Homo sapiens: one gene and its partners. The protein of the gene in region 3 interacts with the protein of the main gene of each other region in a pairwise test. Each region holds a gene or a part of one and is shown on either strand. Other genes may lie near its edges.

The links. Proteins that work in one complex are often made in the same cells at the same time.
Region 1: the proteins of KRTAP11-1 (region 3) and SPRY1 interact in binary tests that used the Homo sapiens proteins (3 or more experiments, as listed by UniProt).
Region 2: the proteins of KRTAP11-1 (region 3) and VGLL3 interact in binary tests that used the Homo sapiens proteins (3 or more experiments, as listed by UniProt).

What each region holds. Positions count from the first base shown.
Region 1 is NC_000004.12:123,399,173-123,404,431, reverse strand, and holds the end of SPRY1 (protein sprouty homolog 1), read right to left. Parts: intron 4,893-5,259; exon of another isoform or gene 4,638-4,892; intron 2,896-4,637; 5' UTR 2,841-2,895; coding exon 1,881-2,840; 3' UTR 677-1,880; downstream 1-676. UniProt on the Homo sapiens protein: Inhibits fibroblast growth factor (FGF)-induced retinal lens fiber differentiation, probably by inhibiting FGF-mediated phosphorylation of ERK1/2. Inhibits TGFB-induced epithelial-to-mesenchymal transition in lens epithelial cells.
Region 2 is NC_000003.12:86,973,974-86,981,771, reverse strand, and holds part of VGLL3 (transcription cofactor vestigial-like protein 3), read left to right. Parts: intron 1-2,969; coding exon 2,970-3,246; intron 3,247-7,798. UniProt on the Homo sapiens protein: May act as a specific coactivator for the mammalian TEFs.
Region 3 is NC_000021.9:30,878,904-30,887,220, forward strand, and holds KRTAP11-1 (keratin-associated protein 11-1), read right to left. Parts: upstream 2,678-8,317; 5' UTR 2,622-2,677; coding exon 2,130-2,621; 3' UTR 1,741-2,129; downstream 1-1,740. UniProt on the Homo sapiens protein: In the hair cortex, hair keratin intermediate filaments are embedded in an interfilamentous matrix, consisting of hair keratin-associated proteins (KRTAP), which are essential for the formation of a rigid and resistant hair shaft through their extensive disulfide bond cross-linking with abundant cysteine residues of hair keratins.

The DNA.
Region 1 (5,259 bases), on a different chromosome or scaffold from region 3:
CAGGTTTCTTATTGCACAGGACTTGATGAGGTGTAATTTGGTCAGGCCACATTAGACTTACGAAACAAGTGAAAAGACAGGGACAGGAATGTTTTTGAAATGTCTCTGATACTGTGAATTATTCCCTTGGTAACTTCTAGAATGCTTTATTAAAGTGACAGTACCAGCGACTCCTAGCATATCTACAGAACTAAGTTCATTAAGTCTAGCTGATAAATCTAACTTTTTATTAACTTAAAAGTTAGGATAAACATTTAAAAAAGCTTCTACTGTAGATATGCCCCATTTCAAGAAACTATAATATACACAAAACCTCATGCTTACAAAATAGTCAAAGTAGGGAGAGAGTATTACAAAAAATTTTTACTGTACAAAATAACTCACTTGAGCATTTGTTAAAAGATAATTTGGATTACAAAATTTTGATTAATGCACTTTCCAGGAAATACTAGGTTGGTGCAAAAGTAACTGTGTTTTTGCCATTAAAAATGACCCAAAACTGCAATTACTTTTGCACCAACCTAATTATCCAGTTCATAATTTGGGCTCACCTATGTCTAGATTCAACATCTATAGGGAAAGAAGTAAAATGGGTGTGTAAGAAGAAAAAGTCAAAGCAAATAAGCAAAAATCATCATAATAGTACAGGCTAATAAATGAAGAAATCGAGAGACAGTTTCATTAATTAATATATTTTCTGCATTATAGTTAACATATGTACTTTCTTCGTGTCACCTTATTTTCCGTTAAGTATTGATATTTTGTTATATTCAAACATGAGTACATTTCAACAGTCTTTTGCAATAAATACCATAAAATAATAGAGATTCGCATAATAAATATTCTTTACAATAAAAAAGTTTAACAGACTTTTGTCTTAAAAATAGTCAGAATTCAACTTTGTGATTTATACATAAAATATACAAAAAGCACCACAATTTGTGGTTAAGGCAAGGAAAACACAGAAGAGATTAGAATTACTCAGCTGTTAACTATCCAAGGGGCCAAAAGGACCATTAAGGAGCCAAGATCACTTTAGGCAGCATAGTTCTGTGACACATATAGATTGATCAGCTATAAATATCAACTTGAGTTATCCAAGTGCCCTCAATGACAACAAAAATTTGGTGAGAAGCATGGGGTGAAGAAGGAAGGTGGCTGAGTCCTTCACAAATACGAAGGCTAGAGTGAAGATGGGCAAGGTCCAACCAATATTATCTCCAATGTGAAGATTTACATTGTAAGGCGAATCTAAAATTACATAGAAAGAAAAAATACACTTGGCATCTCCAGAGTAAGACAACAACAAAACTGAGGGGGAAAGAACCTTGAAGGAGAAAGAAGGAGAGGGCAGTGGTTAAAGGAAAATTTTTACGTTATAGCAAAAAATATATCCCCCATGCTACTTAAGGGGCCTATGCTAGGAAGATAGCCCTAACTGGAGACAGATTTAATACATAGCTTATTTAAGCAATTAAACAGTTGCTTTTTAAAAAACCAATTTCCCTGCTCCCACGGTACCCAATCAAAACAACTCTAAATCACTGTAGTCTGGATGTGGGTGTATGTTCATGTACACAACTTTAGAAAGTTGCTTGCAGAACAAAAAGGCTACACAAAAGCCCACTGGCTCTCAATACCCTCAAGTGGATGGCAGAGGCTCTTGTTGAAAGTGGGAGCCAGGTGCAGCTTCCCAGTCCACTCTTGCTGAAGATCATCCATGAGGAAAGAGAAAAATCCATGAGTTAGACCTTGGCAACAGGGGAAGAGAAGGTGGGAAACAGGGAAAAATTCTAAAGAAAACAAAAACAAAAACAAAAACAAAAAACAGCCACAACTTGAAAGCTAAAAGTTCAGGAGGTACAACCCACCTCCAAAAATCATGATGGTTTACCCTGACCCCGGGAGGGGCAGCTCTCCAGCTTACAATAGACAGTGTTGGAGTTCTTACATCTGCACCCTGGGCGATGGATCCAGTCATAACACCTCCTGCACAGCTTCAGGCATCCTTTAGCAGGAGGATAACAGAGTAAGCAAGGTAAAAATAAAGACATGGCTCCCATACACAGGTATCTAGAGCAGCAGTGTGATTGTGAACAGGAGCAAGGATTATCTGAATAGGAATCCCCTTCGTCGTCATTGGAGCAGTGGTAGAAGATGCCCTTGACTAAGCACATGCAGGTTCCATATTCCACCATGCTCTCAGCAGAGCAAAGGCACTGCCGGTTACAGGCCAAACAGGATGGTAGGGTCCTGGGAGCAGTGCATTCTCCACACTTGCACTTCCCACACTGTTCACAAATGAACTTGTGCTGTGTCAGGTCCTCTTTCAAGGAACCCTTCAAGTCATCCACAATCAGTTGCTTGGGCTGGGTCCGGATTGCCCTTTCAGACCTATGACCAGGGACTGGTCTGGTTGGTGGTGACCTTCCTAACAGTCCCTGTTCAGAAGAGGCACTGCTGTTGCTCCCAGAGCTGGCTGCACTTCCAGTGCTGGTTGATCTGCTCAAAATGGGGCCCCTGGCATTACTTGGGAGTACTGCATGTCCCAGGTGGCTTGTGTGTCTGTGCTCGTAGTTATTATTCACATTAATTGGTATGATTTCATGAGTCCTTTCATGCTTTTCTTGTCTTGGTGCTGTCCGAGGAGCAGGTCTTTTCACCACCGAAGGCCCTTCTGTGTATTCATTGCTGCCTCTTATGGCCTTGATCTGGTCTAAGGACAAAATAGCAGTAGGCTGAATCTCTCTCTCATAGTCTAATCTCTGACGGCTATCCAAAGAAGGCTGCTGGATCACAACTAACGAACTGCCACTGCCATGTTGATTTTGGGGATCCATGTGTAGTGATCTCGAGTTCTGGCAATCAGTGGAAACCTGGCATGCATCTGAAATCCTAAAACGAAATCAAAGATGAAAAAAACAGAAAATAAATGACAGGAAGCATTTTTTTTGGGGGGGGGGAATCCTGTCAAATCACAAATTGCCTAAACCGCCTAGTAATGACCTCCTTCATCAGTGGATTACAATGATGCTGGGGTCCTGGCCAGAGTCCAATTCTAGGAGAGGCTGGGGACCACATCATAGAGGAAGACTATAAACAAGAGACCCCATGCCATGAACATTATAAGTTTTTCCAACTTTTAAGAAGCAGAATCAGGAGAAAGTAATGCCTTCCTGTTTGTGAATCTAATAATTAAAATGGAGCATGCCTTCGCAGGGAATACTGAGTATAAGCAGGAGAATAACTCTCATCTAAAGAAAGCTCAGTTATCAGTTCATAGGTGGCTTCCATAAAGGAAAATGTCTACCTTTTAAGAAATTGAGAATGGCTTTGGTGCTACAGCCTTTTTGTTGTGTGCTGTTATATGCATTAGATTAATGATGAAAAAAATTAAGGCATTAAAAAATTGAGACTCTTAAAATGAAATCGCAAAATAATAGGTAATTTTCTATATAAATCAGAATTTTAAAACTACCTTATTATTCATCTATGAGATGCAAAAATAAATGTATCAGGTACACAACGATTCTTGGTGTTTTGGAGCTACAAACACACACACACACAAGACTCAATGTATAGTCCAGTGAATGATATATAACAGTACTCATATTTGAAATCCTGAGAGGATTTTTTTTAAGCTGAAGGGCTCACTCACAAAACAAAGTAAGTTTTATGCACAAATAAGTGTGAGGCCTTTAACGCAGTGTAGGGAAATCCTGGCAGTTTTAATTATCTGTATTTCCTCTGATTTAAAAATCTGTATTTACATGACAGACCTTGATTTTCAAACGCACTGCCAATTCTGATTCAACGTTCTTCTTGTAACAAAATCAGCACACTAATATCCAGATAAAAATAAGCAGTTGTGTTTCCATACTAATAGTAAGTTATTTCTAATTTATGTGTTCTTCACAAACTGCCAAAGATGAAAGTTTCTGCTTTCAGTGGTGAACTAGAGTATTTTTCACACAAATTCCTTCTAAAGTCTACAGAGTCGACCCAATTCAAGAATGAAAAGAAAAAGAAATGTCCATTCTCCACTACCAACCTGAGGCAAAAAACATGGTTTAAGGAACAACGCAGAAAGAAGTCCATTTCCTATATTTCCTAAACTAATGTCTCTAAACTATGTCTTACATGTTAACTTCTTGGAGCTCCCCCTCGTTTTCACAACTCAGCTCTCTCGAGTTTCTACTTTATTCTACCTTCTTTGCGCATGAGGAGTAACACATTCATAACCTGCGGGGATTTAGTCTCGGAGTCCTCAACATCTAATCCTGACTCCTGCACAATTATTCCTCTTCTTCAAGAACTTCTTAACTCAGTGCTTTCAAAGCAAAAGGTAGCTAAAAGTACTAAGCCAGATTCACAAAACCGCAGAGGATTTGAATAGTGTAACCCATAACACCAGGCACAACTTCAATTTGCATTTCCAATGATAGTTGTAACAAACTTCATACTGGCTGGGAAATAAAGTTGCCAGACAAAAAAATTAAAAGCAAAGAAAATTCGCCACCTCCGATCCGAAGAAAAGCCCATTTTCAAGCAGTGACAGTCTTGGACAAGCCCCAAACACGCTCACACGCGCTCGGCACACTGCCTTCCCCAAGAAAACGCGAATGGAAGTAGAATACCTTTTCGGACAATCCCATCACCATATTAAGGATCACCGTGGATTTCCAACACACTTTTTGGGTGGCCCACCAAGGTTTCTGAGAAATCATGAAGAGCCTTCAGCGTCCACGCGGGAGCCCAAAGCAAGCCCACGGTCTGGCTGACCCTAAGCAAGGATTTGTCTATGCTTTAAAGGAAAAGCTGGGTTCACCGAGGGCCGAGGAGAAAGAAGCCAGCGCAGGGGCGGCCACATTGCAAGTTACCACGGTGGAGCTGCGCCCTCTGCAATCCGCACTGAATAAATAGTTGACGGAAGAAGGAAAAGGAAAAAGTTATGAATGAAAACAAGTTCTTTCTCCCTCTCTCTGTGGTAGGAGGAGGGGAGGAGGCTGAGGTTACCATGAGCTCAGGAGGGCGGACTTCCCCACTTTTTTTTTTTGAGCCGGAGTCTCACTTTGTCTCCCAGGCTGGAGTGCAGTGGCGCGACCTTGGCTCACTGCAACCTCCGCCTCCCGGGTTCAAGCGGGTCTCCCGCCTCAGTCTCTCGAGTAGCTGTGACTACAGTCGCGCGTCACCACGGCCGGCTAATTTTTGCATTTTTAGTAAAGACGGGGTTTCATCAGTTGGTCGGGCTGGTCTCGA
Region 2 (7,798 bases), on a different chromosome or scaffold from region 3:
AATTGCAAGTGGCAACGGTAGACATTCTTGTGTCCTGCCTATGGGTAGATAGAAGCTTTTTTCATTTTATTTGTTTGATAGTTTTCTAGCAAATTTATTTAATTAGTAAAAGAATCGAGAGAGATAAAAAGAAAAAAGAAAGTATATAATCATTACAAAAAATTTTATTTAATTAGAGGAATCAGTATAAATATTTTAAAGAACCATATATATTTGCTATATCAAAAAGGAATATTTCAGTATACATATTTATGTAAATATAGATATATTACATATATGAAATAAAAAGAATATAAAGAATACATACAATGAGAGAATTCTTTTTCTAAAATAAACTGATGACAGATATTTTAATGCAGGGGCAGCTTTTGCTTACTATTTCCCATTGCATATTGAAAAATATAATTTTTAGGTTAGTTTATTTCTATCCAACCATTGAAAAATTGGTAGGAAAAGTAACACAATATTATGAAGCATTTAGAAAACTGTGAAATCTTAAATCAATTGAAATTCTATAGTTTAAATACAATAGTTTAATGGATTTTAAAATATCGATTTTAAAATTGATATTTTATGATTGCTACTATTGATAAGAATACTATTTGACGTTTGTATCAGGATTCATGGCCTTCAAATCCTTTACATATATATAACTTCAATTTTATTTCATCTAAGAATTAATTGCTGTCAATTAAGGATAAAATAAAACTTTGACTTTATTTGGATTGTTAATGTAGCCAGGCTCTTCTATTTAAAGAATGAATGTTACAATTAAACAAATAAAGCATTTATATGCAAAGCCCCACTCTCACAAACTGATGCTGAGCTGGACATTAACAGAAAAAAGAAATTAGTTTCACGGATAAGAATGAACACTTGTGGACAATGATGCCACCATGTAGATAGGTTTTAGGGTTTTTTTTTTTCATAGAAAAACAGAGCTGCTTTCTAATGTGCCCGAATATTCAGCAGAGAGTGTGTGCATATGGTTAAAACAATACATGTTTTAGGTAAATACACATGCACCCGAAGAAGCAGCACTGTGATTTGACTAATAAATCATAATATTCATTTAATTTTTTAATGGAATTTAAAACTAGGAATAGTTTTAGAGGTTATTTAGTTCGATTCCCTCATTTTACACATACCATATGTTTCTATGGTGTTTATACTATTGAAGTTAAATATAAACATGTTCAAATCTGTGCAGAGGTAGATTATGAGAAATAAAAGCAATCATCTATTCATCAGCAAGGCACATTCACTTACAAAGTATGAATTATCTATTCATCAACAAATCATAACCATACTGATACGAATTTTAAATAAAAGCAAAACACATATTTATAAATAACCATCCTGAAACGATAACTAGAAGTTCATAGTATTTCTGAATATTTCAGTACTCACCTTATACAAGAACAACATATTCACTGCTAGGGGAAAGGGACCAATTTATTGAATGGTGCATTTATAATTTGAAGCTATAGATATTGAAGCTAGTAATTACATTAGAAATATAGAGTCTGGGGTATGTATTTTGCTAACATTTGAAAAATTACTGGGTATTCTGGAGTGATTTATCTATTTCTACTCACATTCATTTTCCAGCATGCGTTTTTTTCAAAGTAAAAAAAAAAAAAAGGTATGATCAAGGATCAGGTTTTGCAGACATAAAGATGACAGAGAAAGCTCATTTCGTCACTAGAATAATACATTTCATATCTTTAGCATTATCTCCTTATATGTAATTCGCATTGAAGTTGATAATAAATGGAATATGTGCTCAGTGAAAAATGTTTGGAAATACTGAAAAGCAGAAATAAGAAAATGACAATTAACTATAAACGTATTACACAGAAAAACAATACAAAATACATTTTTGTAATTTTTTTACTCTAGATATCCCTCCCTGCCTTTCCCCACCAAATGTATGCACACGCATATCTATATGCTAGATATCCCTCCCTGCCATTCCTCAGAACATATATATGCACACACATGTCTATACCTGTATGTTTTTCTTATGCATTCTGACTCTGCAGCTTACATGATTTGTGACTTTTGGCAAGTAACTTAATTTTTCTGTGCTTTAGCTTTTTAATCTTTACAATATGGATAGTATTAATAGCCATGTTATAGAATTGTAAAGATTAAGTGAGGTGATAAATATAAAGTTTTAGAAACATGTCTGAAATAATGTATATTATTATTAGAATTATATTTTTAAACATTTTAAATTAACAAATCTTTCTCATTTTTAATTGAAAGATTAACCCACTACTAGTATTTTGTAATATTTTCACTAAGCCATAATGAAATCTTTTCCCCTCATGATAATGGTGGTAAACGGAACATCTAAAAAATATGTTCCATGCAAAATGCATCTTCACACAGACTTATTTTGCCATTTTAGTTTGATTTTTGAAGACATGAGTTCAGCACATCTGCCAAATCCTTTTATAAGATGCTACATTCCTGTTTTTATTTTAGTTTATTTTATTTATGAAAAGTTCTTTTCTTCTCCACTCCACCCCCAGACAGTCATTCCTCTCTGTCCTAAACCATAACACTGCTGTACATTGCATTTTTAAAAATAAACCAAAACTGGGAAGAAAAACTTTTTAAAAAAGTAATTCTCCTGTTGGCCTAGCTAGATGAAAAAACAAAAAGCAAAACAAAAACAAAAGCAAAAACAAAATCTTGTATTGAAAATATACTATTTGATAATGGGCTTTTATGTTCGTTTGCCAAATGTAGAATCACAGAGTTTTTGTTGTATTTTTTTTAGTGTGGGAAGGAGGCAACTGGTTTGGGGAGGAAAAAGATGGAGTAAAACAGATGAAGAAGAATCAGTTTGCAAACATATGTTAATATTTAGATTCTTTTTTTAAAAAAGTGAAAACTTAACTAGTGAATGCTTTTCTACAAACTGTCTTTGATACTGTGTTTTGTTTATTCCATCCCAGAAGAAGTTAGCGGTATTCAGCAAGATGCAGGACTCTCTGGAAGTCACCCTTCCCAGCAAACAAGAGGAGGAGGATGAGGAGGAGGAGGAGGAGGAGAAAGACCAGCCTGCCGAGATGGAGTACCTTAACTCTCGCTGTGTCCTTTTCACTTATTTCCAGGGAGACATTGGGTCAGTAGTGGATGAACACTTCTCAAGAGCTTTGGGCCAAGCCATCACCCTCCATCCAGAATCTGCCATTTCAAAAAGCAAGATGGGGCTAACCCCCCTATGGCGAGGTAAGAATTCAAAAGCAGATGTTCTCCAGGGCACTGTCTTTGTTTCGCAACTGCCTGTACCAGGTTCCAGCTGGAGACTTGCCCCTGAGGATGGATATCCACTTGCTTTTTAATATTTAAGGACAGTGAGGAATTTCTTTCAGACAAACAGCTGGATCGGTTTTGTCACATGTGGAATGTAGGGTTGGAAAGGATGCAGTCACACCCCTTAAATTCCTCATGGAAAGTAGTGATACAACCGGCTTGAGTTTATAGTGGCTGCACTGAGCTGCGAAGTACCATTCCTAAAGCCCCAGTGGCCCAATTTGGATCTCTAAATAATAGGCGTGTCTAAATCAGCTTTTAAAAAATTAGCTCTTGCTCATTCCAATAGGTGCTATGTGGTGACATACCAGAGACCTGAGTCTGACCCAGGAATACAGACATTGAAAGCTGTCTGTGTTCTTTGAATAGGCTTCTTTATCCTGATTTGTTATTGTATTAACTCTTTATAGTATACACTCTAGGCATTTTGGCAGCATCCACATGGCTTAAACTAGTGTTTTTACCTTGATAAAGAAAGAGCAGCACATTGGACTCCTTTATTTCTCTCTGTATCGAGCTCACAGAGATGTGTTTGAAACTGATTTCTGACTCATAGAAAATTATTGGTGACATCTAAATCAGGGTAATTACAGGGTTAGATAAAAACATAATACGTCATTCCAATGACAGCTTCAGAGAAATTTGCTACAGTGGTGATTTCTTCCAAATTCACCTGGTTATAGGAATGATCTAGTAAAATGGTTCTCGAGGTGTGATTTTCCTGACCAGGAACATCAGTGCCACATGGGAGCTTGTTAGAAGTGCGAATTCTTGGGCTCCACCCCAGACCTGCAGAATCAGAAGCTCTGGGGTGGGGCAATCTGTGTTTTAACCAGCCCTCCCAGTGACTCCAGTGCAGAGTTTGATAATCATTGATCTAGTCCTGTTAAGGACAGTTTGCAGGACCCCCTTATCTCGAATCTATTGAACTAGAATCTTCATAGGAAGGTGTGGGAATCACACTTTAACAAGGGCTCTGGGTAATTCCTATCATGAGGAAAAGCTGGCTACCTGTGGGCAGGGCCAGGTGAGCAGTGAGCAGTGACTAGTGGTACCTTCTGGGCAGCACAGGAATGGTTCTGCTCTACTGTAGAAGTCCTGGCCACATGGAATTGCTGGGCCTGATCTTTTCTTACCTACTTGACCTTTCTTTTCTTCTCTCCCTCCCTCCCTTCTTACCCTCTCTCCTTCCTTCCCTCCCTGTTTGCCTCTTCTCCTCTCCTCTCCTTCTTTTTTTTCTTTGCTTCTTTACTTTTCTTTTTAGTAAATATAAACAACACTAAACAGTGACTATAAAGGGGAAGGTGGAATACAAATAAAATATCCAAGGCCTTGATGGAAATGAACTGAAAAACATACTAGTTATTTGATTAGTAAATAATATGGGCTTACTATGAGAACTGAGACTTAGTCCTTGGAAGCCTATGATGCTTATGTAATAGACTAATGTCCTATTTAACAGGACGTGATGAATAATTTTAATAATTTGTAGAGGAAGAAAATAGGAAAACATTAGTGAGTTAGATGGCTTTAATAAATAATTTGATATATCAATAATGAATCCTATTAAGATAATCAGTGCCAGGAGAGTAATAAATATAATGTCTACTTCTTTTAGCACATGGGCATATGCAACCTTGCTATCATTTAAACTGAAAAATCAGAATTAATGTCCCAAATTATTTCTTGGTGTGAGAGTGATTGTCTATAGAATCATATTCAAAATAATTTTTAGTGGGATGTTGTGAATGTGCAGAAACCCTACAACACATCAGCATTTTCTCTGTAATTTGCAAAACACATTACACAAGTTCCTTTAGCAGATGTTAAACTGTAGCATAGAAAGGGTTAATAAAGGCAATGTTTTCATAACTACTACTAAAGTTTTCTTGGAACTATCTTAAATTTGATCTTCAAATATGTCTCCTGTTTTATTCATTGACATATTCAGCAAACATTTATTAACCTCCTGCTATGTGTTAGGCAATGTGCTAAGTCCTGAGACAGCCCAAGGCTCTACCCTCATGGAGCTTTTAGGGTAGAAACAGGAAACAAACAATTGTTACAAAATATGTTATTTTACATAAGGTGATAACAAAAGCCCTGTGTGGCACAGTTATGTTTGAGCAGATAGCTGAAGGAAATAAGAATACTCATCATGTGGTTACCTAGGGGAAAGTAATTCTACACAGAAGGGACAGATAGTGCAAAGGCCCTGAAGATGGACTGAGCTTAGAATATTCAATGAGAAGCAAAGATGCTGGTGTGAGGTGAATGAAATGCAAAGTAATAGGTGGAGAACAGATGCTTTAGAACTTTTTTTTTTTGAGATGGAGTTTCGCTCTTGTCACCCAGGCTGGAGTGCAGTGGTGCGATCTCGGCTCACTGCAACCTCCGCCTCCCCAGTTCCAGCGATTCTCCTGCCTCAGCCTCCTGAGTAGCTGGGATTACAGGGACCCTCCACCATGCCCAGCTAATTTTTGTATTTTTTTGGTAGAGACGGGGTTTCACCATGTTGGCCAGGCTGGTCTTGAACTCCTGACCTCAGGTGATCTGCCCGCCTCGGCCTCCCAAAGTGCTCGGAGCCACACTTACAGATGTGAGCCACCGCGCCCCACTGTTTTAGAGCTTTTTACATCAGTTTATCAGCATATACCAGGAGCACACAGCATGCGCTTCAATTTTCATCTCCTATTATCCCACTAAGTCTACAAATACCATATCTTCTTATGGTGCCTCATTTTTTCTGATGCTCACAACAATGTGTTTCTATGTGGAAAATCTGAAATAGATATGCATTGAATGATTAAGTGACTGAATTAAATGAACCAATTTCATACCATGTATCCGGAATTAGAAAACAAGAGTCTTTAATAGAAAATTTCTTGGTAATAAGTTATATGAACTCTTTGGGTACAGTTTTTTTTAATTTATAAAATAAGGGGGTTAAATTAAATAATTGGTAAAAATATTTTCTTCTGTAAAGTTCTGTAATTTCAAAGGTATTATTTGCTTTTCTTAGATCTTTGTCATAATTGTCTTAAGTTGTGAATTAGACAGATTTAGATAAATATATAAAACTTGTGTAGGATTTATAGGAAAGCCACAAACGATAATTAAAAATATAGAAAATGTCTTAAAGAAGAGGTTCAATAAAATGAGACTCACATTTTTATTCTCATAAAATGAGAGAGTTGGTGACAATTTAATATTAATTGGCAAAGCTACACAGGATTGGAAAATACAGTCTTTGGAGTCCATTTGTTTTAGATTCATGTTCCAGCCTTTACCTTCTGGTTGCAATGTGATCTTGGATTACTAAATTGAAATCTCTTACATCAACTTCCTCAACTGTAATATGTGTTTATTGATACCCATCTCATAGAGTTATTGTAAAGATTTTTAAATAATGTATATGAATAATTTAGCATAGAGCTTGACTCAAGGTGCTAAATGAAAGCCAGATGCCTTTTCTCTCTTCCTTAAGTAAGTTTCCACTCATTTGACACATAGAAAACAAACCCTGAGCCTTTATCCAGGAACATTGTTTTCTGGAACTTTGTGTTTTTGGTACAAAACACACAGTCTTAGATAATAGTAGATACTAAAGGCTAATGATAATGTTAGTGGCCATGGCAATGATGCTTAGAAAGGAACTGCTGACCGAGTATTAAAGGGTCTAGTTTACAGCATAAAGTTATTACAGTGCCACAGAAGTGCTACCATGCTACAAACAAATTTAATAACTGAATCGTGTTTGACTAAGAATATATTTACACGGTAAATCTTTAGACAAAGAATAGTGTGTCAGCTAATAATGAAAGAATGGTTATACTTTGAATGTATATCTCCTTCATGAAGCTAGGTAAGTTTTTTTAGGTGTTTTTCAGCTGTAAGGCAAACAATGATAGGAAGTATATGTATTTTACTTGGCACAATGTCTTATCAGTTACCTCTAATCCTGCTATATATTCTAACAGGGTTGAAAGAATTTCATTTCTTTCCATTAAGAAAACCTAACTAGCTGGGCGTGGTGGCTCATGCCTGTAATCTCAGCACTTTGGGAGGCCGCGGCCGGGCAGTTCACCTGAGGTCAGGAGTTCGAGACCAGCCTAGGCAACATTGTGAAACCCCATCTCTACTAAAAACACAAAAAATTAGCCAGGCAAGGTGACAGCCACCTGTAATCTCAGCTACTTAGGAGACTGAGACAGGAGAATCGCTTGAACCCGGGAGGTGGAGGTTGCAGTGAGTCGAGATTATGCCATTGTACTCCAGCCTGTGTGACAGAGTGAGACTCTATCTAAAAAAAAAAAAAAATAACAAACCTAATGAATATGATTGGTCCCTTATCTCCATACAAATATATGTTTCTTGATACCCTTCTCCTAGAGTTATTATAAAGATTTTAAAAATAATCTATATGATTAATTTAGCACAGCGCTAAACATTGGTTTCAAATATGCCT
Region 3 (8,317 bases):
CCATGCATACTAACATAATCCAATTAGGGGAATCCTAAGAGTAGAGCCATCAATGGGAAAAATTAAAAATATTGCATCTATATGGAAATAATCTATATATTTCACCTCTGAAAAACCATCAGAGAAATAAGAAATCCATTTTGCACTGACAACACAGAGTGAGATCAAATTCTCCACAAGACACCAGCATTTCTGTTATGAAAAAAGACACCCATTGTTGATGGCATGTGTACCTCATATGTCTCCATTTTGTGTAAAAATCATCTGCTTTTGTATCTCCTTGAGCAACTCTGAAAAGAAAATCAAGATGTTTTTCTGGACAGAACAAATGAGAAGGGCAAAAGCAAACCAGTTGGTAGCCAGTCTTCACTTCCTTAAAAAAAAAAAAAATGGCAAAAGGACTTAGCATGTCAACCTCCACCTATCCAGATGGTTTGATTTATTTAGTACACGAGTTCCAGGGAAGAACGAGCAAGAAGTATGACTAAGTATTAATATAAGCCAACAGGTTTTTAAGCTTCTTTTTAAGTCTCTCCTGCCCAGATTTACTAAAACACAGAGCTTTAATTTTCTCAGGGCTCTGACTCGAACAGTCAATTGGTATCCCTCGTTGGCAGATTCTACTAATCCACTACCATGAGTGAGGTGGGTATAAAGCTAGAGCCACTCTTTTGATGTGATTAATTTCAGGGCCTGAAAAGTGCCTTCTCTTTCTTTCTCCTTCTCCTTCCATCCCGATTGATCATGGAGGAATCTTTTCCAAAGGTTTCTACTGTGATCCTCTAACTAAATAAGACTCAGCACTTCTCAGTGATCCCACTGCTCCCTTCCCTGCACATCTTTCTGAAATACCTGGTTTTCTGGGTAACTTTTCTTTTTCCTAAATGTAAGTTATTCCATGTGCCCCTAGAAATGGAAGGAGACGTAGAAGACAAGTTACTCCTAGAAATCTCATAGCCCTGGCCTGTAATCCCAGCACTTTAGGAGGCCGAGGCGGCAGATCACCTGAGCTCAGGAGTTCAAAACCAGCCTGGCCAACGTGGTGAAACCTGTCTCTACTAAAACTACAAAAATTAGCCGGGCGTAGTGGTGAACGTCTGTAATCCCAGCTACTCTGGAGGCTGAGGCAGGAGAATCACTTGAACCCAGTAGGCAGAGTTTACAGTGAGCCAAGATCGTGCCACTGCACTCCAGCCTGGGCGACAGAGTGAGACTCCATCTCAAAAAAAAGAAAAAAAAGAAAAAGAAAAAGAAAGAAAGAAAAGAAAAGAAAAATCATAGCCCTTACTTCACCGCACAGCTGAAGACTCTCTCTGAACAAGTAAAATATAAGATAATCCTTGGTTTGGTCACAGGGCATAATGATTAAGCCCATATTCTAGGCTCAGGAAAAAAAAAATCAGACCCTGATCAGCAAAGACTCTTGCAAACAAGGAGCTCTGTTGAGAAAACTAAATACCACCTGTTCTCACTAATAAGTAGGAGCTAAACATTAGGTACACGTGGACATAAAGATAAAAACAATAGACACTGGCAACTGGAAGAGCGGGGAGTGAGGAAGAGGAAAAGGGTTGGAAAACTACCTATTGGGTACTATGTTCAATACCTGACAGATGGGTTCAATCATACCCCAAACCTCAGCATCACACAGTATACCCCTGTAGCAAACCTGCACATGTACCCCGCAAAAACTAAATTAAAAGTTGAAATGTTTAAAAAAGAATTCTGCTGAGACATACATTTGCAATGCCAACTAATGCAGGTTTATTGAGAAATACATGGTGAGACAAGCTCTGTTTTTGTGAGACACAAAAGCAGAGGCCAGGAGATACAGCAGCAAGGTGAAAACATGTCAAAAGCATCAGAGACTGGGGTGTGGATGGTAAAGCTTCTGGACACATCCAGAGGCATACACAGCACCAGTGAGCAACCCTTAAAACAAGCTTAGGGCTGGCCAGAAAAATTTTAGAGTGCTAAAGACAGCGTGTGCATGGATAGTAGCCAGCAGTCAGGCGGTCACAAGAAGGGTCAGCTATGAAGAGCTATTCAGGGACAAGCAGCATGCTGGAAGATCCTGGAAACAGCTGGCAGGTCGTGGAGTCTTGATTCGCTCACTGGCTCCTACACACTTAGCAGGTTCTTCGGCAGCTGGACACGCAGGACTGCTGATACGTCCTGGAGACCCCACAGGCTGGCTGGCAGACAGTAGAGACTCCTCCCACTGGTTGGCAGACAGTAGAGATGCCGCCCACTGGTTGGCAGACACTGGAGATGCCTCCCAGGGGCTGACATCCACTAGAGACAAAGGTGAGCGGCCGGCTGTAGGTAGTTGAGCAGGGGTTGGAAATACAGGTAGTTTGTCGAGAGCAAGTCACCTGGCAAGGGTTGGAGACACATGAAGTTCGCCGGTAACAGGTTGGCTGGCAAGCAGTGGGCTCACAGCAGGTCTCTTGACAGTGGTCCAGGAGCCAAGAGCCAGTCTGGAAGGAACTGGGCAAACAGATGCCGCCCAGGCAGTCAGCATCAGTGGTGGAAGTCGTGGTAACTTGGGCCACTGGAACAATGCAGCGTCCTCCAATGGGCCTGGAAGAGCAATTTCTTGTGGAGCAGTTGAAGGACATGATGTCAGACAGAGGGCTGCAGGTAGCTTGCTGAAGTTACCTCCTGAGTTGTGAATGTCACTCCAGACTCCTGAGCTTTTATATATCCTTGCTGGTGGGTGGGGCTCTCTCCCTGGTCTCCGTGGCTTCTTTGGCTCAGACCAGTTTGCCTTAGAACATCTTGTGAATCTACACATTAATTGTCTCTTAAGAAGCCTTCACCCTCATAAAGAAAGTTTAGTAGTTTGGTAACTAAATCACAAGTCTTCTGTACTGTACTTAGTCTGATTAAGAAGGCTGGTTGGCAGCTTCAAAGCTATTGGTCATCCCAGCCCACACGTTGTCCCTCATTCATCTTGCTTATGATGAGTGTTGACCTGACACTCATCCTACCAAAGATGCCACCATCCTACCATCACACACTCTCTCCCTCCCTACCAGGACCAATTACAAGCCCATGCCCTGTTTCATTTGTCACTGGACTTAATATCTTTTAAACATAACTTAATCAGTCACTCTACCACACCTAACGGAGCTCCTCATTGGGAAGGTGCCTCCTTGAATATGTTTCAAGACAACAGTGACAACACTTGACAGGAACAAAGGGCACAGAGACTTGTATCCAAAGTCTGAGCTGGCTCTCAAAATTAATCAACTGACTCAAACAAGATGCCCGTGGGAAGGCTAGAGGGCAGTGGGACCCACCCTTTATGTTCAACCAACAAAGCAAATTAGAAGCTAACTAAGTGCAACTGTATTTGTAGCCAAGACCTTTTCTAAGTAAATTGGATGAGCTTTATTCCTAAAATGTTTAATTTAATAACAGTGGATAATAGTGACTCCTGGGTCTCATTAATATGCCAGTGGAAAAGGCTTAGTTAATTTTTAAAATTATCATAATGTTAATTTGAAAGGGTACAGTGTCTTTCTCCCAATTTGTTCAATATGTTCAAAAGATATTTATTTTCACACATATAGATAGAATGCATTTTAATTATGGACAAACTAAAGGCTCTTCAAGGTCATTGTCTCCATCAGGGATAAGGGGGAGGCAGAGCTGGGGGAAGCAGGCACTTAATCAATGTTTGGTAATGAAGAGATGTGTGAAGAGTGTGCTATATTTAATTATTCTTTTTATGCTTGGGGAAGCTATAGGGATATCACTCTATTTTATTTCATCTCACTACAATATAATGAATTTTAAACACCAGAATGATGGCTCGTTTGGGTCCACCTGAACATAGATGAATAAACTGCCTCAACTCTGGCAAAATAAGCAACTTCAACATCGCTTCAAGTGGTCAGTGGTATTTCTGTCCCAAAACAGCTGTAGCATCTGACTCATTTTTAAACTAGCTTACATGAGGGAGCGTAAGGGAATAAAATGGATTTCCATGTATTTGAGGGCTACAGGTAAGCTATGTTTTAAATATCCACAAAGCAAACAGCGTTATGTCAGGACTCATCAGAAATCCCTAATTGGAAACTAACGACACACCCAAAGAAGAGGGTGCTGTGAGCAATAGCATGATTCCCAGATATCAGACCTCAATGTCCTGACCCTCCCTCAGTGACTCACCATGTGTTCCCAGGAACGGGGTGAAATTAATGAGATGACTACTTTCCACAATGTTGTGGCTATGCTCTTCCCACCACAGAGGGTATCTTAGTTGGTGTTTGAAGGCCTGAGTCCTTGGCCCTAGGGCCTGGCTTGCATGTTGTAAAATGGATTACTAGTTTACAGGCTTCTCCCAGCCACAGGTTCACAGGCTACTATGGAAGAGTACTTAACTGTGGCAATTCCCAAAATCTGAAGTGAGTAGTAGAGTTACAAAGGAGAACGTTTCAGTGCCTACTGCCACATTCCTGGAATGACAGACAATTGTATAAGTTATTACCTTGTCTTGATGTGTCTCTCCCATTGAAAGCTGGAAATTACAGATAAAAGGATCCTAGAAAATATCTTCCATCACTTCAGGAAAAAAGAAAATGAGTGTCTTTTAAGCACACAACTCTCTTCCAGGCATTGAGTTAAAGGTTTGTACAACTCAGCCGGGCACGGTGGCTCACGCCTGTAATCCTAGCACTTTGGGAGGCAAAGGCAGGCAGATCACGAGGTCAGGAGATCGAGATCATCCTGGCTAACATGGTGAAACCCCGTCTCTACTAAAAATACAAAAAATTAGCCAGGCGAGGTGGTGGGCGCCTGTAGTCCCAGCTACTCGGGAGGCTAAGGCAGAAGAATGGCATGAACCCGGGGGCGGAGCTTGCAGTGAGCCAAGATCGAGCCACTGCACTCCAGGCTGGGTGACAGAGAGAGACTCCGTCTCAAAAAAATAAATAAAATTTAAAAAAATAAAGGTTTGTACAACTCATCTCACTGAGTTCTTACAACAACTCTGTGGAGTAGGTATCATGTCACATACTGGAGCTGAAGTTCAGGGACCCTGGGTGGCTCGCCAAGGTCATGCAGTTTATATTTGACTAAGTTGAGATTCAACTAAAACAGAGTCTCTGAACTACCAACTCACACTGAGGATATTTAAATGTGATGAGATGCCTTCCTTCAAGTGTGAACAAGAATTTGTTATTTTTAATCAATCAATCAATACTTCATTGATGACATTATAAAGGATATAATCATTTCTCTTCTAGGTTCATCAATTGATTAACAATGGAAATAAATAAAATAGTAAGTCACAAGCACTGCTGTCCTACTTCGTATGTTTTGTTCATTCTGTATCCAATTTAACAATTTTTAATCCTTAGAATAAGACACAAGGTCACTACAAACAAAGCAAAAAAGAATAGAGAAACATTAATAGCTTGAAGCTATAGTTTGAAATTATAATTATGTATAATAGCTGTGCACACAACAAATTTTCAGAGCGTAGCAGATAAGTGAATTGATTTTTCAGTCTTATCCATTTTCCAGAGTCTGCCATTTTTCAGGTGCTAAATAGAGGGAAAATGTTGAGTAGATCCCTTAGATTAATTATTAAAAGAAACTTCAGCTTACATTGTGACTACAAGCAGATTATTTCTGAAGTCTTATATTAAAATGATTTCAGAGTTTGTGAATAACATTTCTCATAAAGGTCTTGCCAACGTGAAAAATCGATACACTTCTCTGCTATTCTCTGAAAATACACCATGCCACACAGAGGTAGGCAAGCTACTTGATACTCTCATGCATTTTATTGTCACATGCAAGCACTTTGACTCTTTATCTGCATTCACTGTATGTTGCAAAAGTAAAGAAACATGTACTGACAGTCACATAAGCTTGATGAAACTCTACACAATTTTAATTTGACAATGTTGTTCAATGAAATTAATAAATCATCCTTTCCTTGGAATGTAAGAAAAAATTACACGGCCAATTGCTGTCACTATGTAGTTAGGCACAACCTCAAACTTCAACTCAGCAAAAAGTCTTGTGAAGATTATTATTCTCATGTCTGCAGAGCGTGAAGTGAGGGGATGGGTAATAGGAGCAGATGAGGAGAGATCGAGGAACTACTACCCATTATCTTCATCACTGATGGATAATTTGCTCTCATTTGTATAGAACAATCTAAGCCTTATACAATAATTATCACAGGCTGGAAATGAGCAATTCTTTCACTCAAAACTGAATCACAGCAATCATTTACAAGGCCAAGCATTTGAGAGTAAAATGAGCTAAGCATGTGAGGGAGGCTGGAGGTTTGATAGGCAGAAAGGATATTTTTCATCACAAATTTGATAATAATGTTGACCAACGCCAGTTCAGAGAAAACCACTTAGCCTCATCGAATGGAGGAATAGTGAACTTGTGGAAAAATTAATATATATGAAATGAAATGCTGTCATTCTGCACTTTTTCAGAATGATCACCCTCTCAAATTGAAGCTATTCATTGTCTCTTAAGAAATATAAAAAGGAAATTCAGAAGCTTAAGTGTAGAACTTAATGGTTGTTTTAAAAATTAAATACATCTTGGCTGAGTTGTTCTGCTTTCTTTCCAACTTCCCACGGACCTCTGGGTTGAATCTCCAGAATCTTTATTAACCAAGACATTATAAAGCCCTGGAGGCTCAGTGATTTGCACCACAAAATGGAACTGAAATTCATTTTCCAATCTCTTTTCAAAAAGCATCAATCATAAGAAGGGTTGAATAATTTGGGCTGGAAGGAACTCTAGGGCAGAAAGCAGAAGGTGAAAGAAACAAGCAAAGACCAGCAAAATAGTTGCTGCTTTTTGAACCCGAAAATAGCAATCACCAGCTACATGACTTGTGTAAAAATAAACCCTCAGAGGACAGTGTCAAGGTTGAAAAATTCTAAATTGAACCATTCTCTCTGTTGATGCCTGTTTTCAGATTCATGTGGTTTTTCATGTGTGTCTTCAATGGAGATCAAAATCAGGGTGCTGTCAAGAAAGGTGAGTAGAATCCCAAGTGTTTTTCAGCACAACTAACTCCCATGTGGCAAAGCCCATGTGTCGTTGGCATGGGCTCCAGTCCTGGCCTTCCAAATAAAGAGAGGGAGACCCATTTGTAACCAGACATGAGTAATGTTTATGTACAGGGCCTAAGAGAGAAGGCACCGAGTCTCCCAAGATGTATCATCCTTCCCTGATCCAGAATTGTTCAGGGCCTACTAGGTACTCTGTGGGGTAAGGATACTGGAATCTATGTAGGAGACAGGTAAAGTGGATAGGTCTTCTCTTAACATGACTTAATTGACCTGTGCTTATGCCCTTTCAACATAGTTCTTCTTGGTCTGATCTGCCTGTCTGGGGGATTAGGAGTGTAACATTAGGCCAGCACTATCTCAGGTTGGTAATTAGACTTCCAGTGCTGCATTTTAAATTCTTCTCATACAATTCTCTTATCTGATTGATGAGAAGCCAAGTCCGAAACAGGGAGCATCTTTGCCAAGCACATCGAACATTCTTGTGCACTACTTCGAAACTGTCTCACTTCATTTCTTACTGTAGCCTCTTTGCACACACTTAAGCCAGTTTCATGATGGTGCAGTCCCAAAGTGCTTCCTTCACTTTGAGGCAACTCACGTGCTCCTTGCTTCCTGCTAGGTCTTCTCTGATGCCATGGCAAGGAAAGTCCATGTTAATTTTCTCTGCACTCACATATGTACCACCCAGAAGTGGGGTCAAGTGTAGGCAACAGAGAATGCAAACCAAAGGATGAAAACTCCCCACTTTTGTCCTCCAGGTAGATAATACTTGATATGGTTTTGTCATGTCTCCACCCAAATCTCATCTTCAATTGTAGCTCCTGTAATTCCCATGTGTTGTGGGAGACACCCAATAGGAGATAATTGAATCATGGAGGCGGCTTCCCCTATACTGTTCTCATGGTAGTGAATAAGTCTCACAATATCTGATGGTTTTACAAAGGGAAACCCCTTTTGCTTGGTTCTCATTCTCTCTTGTCTGCCGCCATGTAAGATGTGCTTTTGCCTTCCACCATGATTGTGAGGCCTCCACAGCCACGTGGAACTGTGAGTCCATTAAACATTTTTTTCTTTATAAATTGCTCCATCTCAGGTATGTATTTATCAGCAGCCTGAAAACGGACTAATACAGTACTGAAACTCACTTCAGGAAGTCCCATGGGATCACGCACAAGTTGCTTGCAATGGTGGCTGACTTGATAACACTTTCTTGTGGTTGCTTTCCCTACTCTTCTATTTCACTACCCTTGCACTGC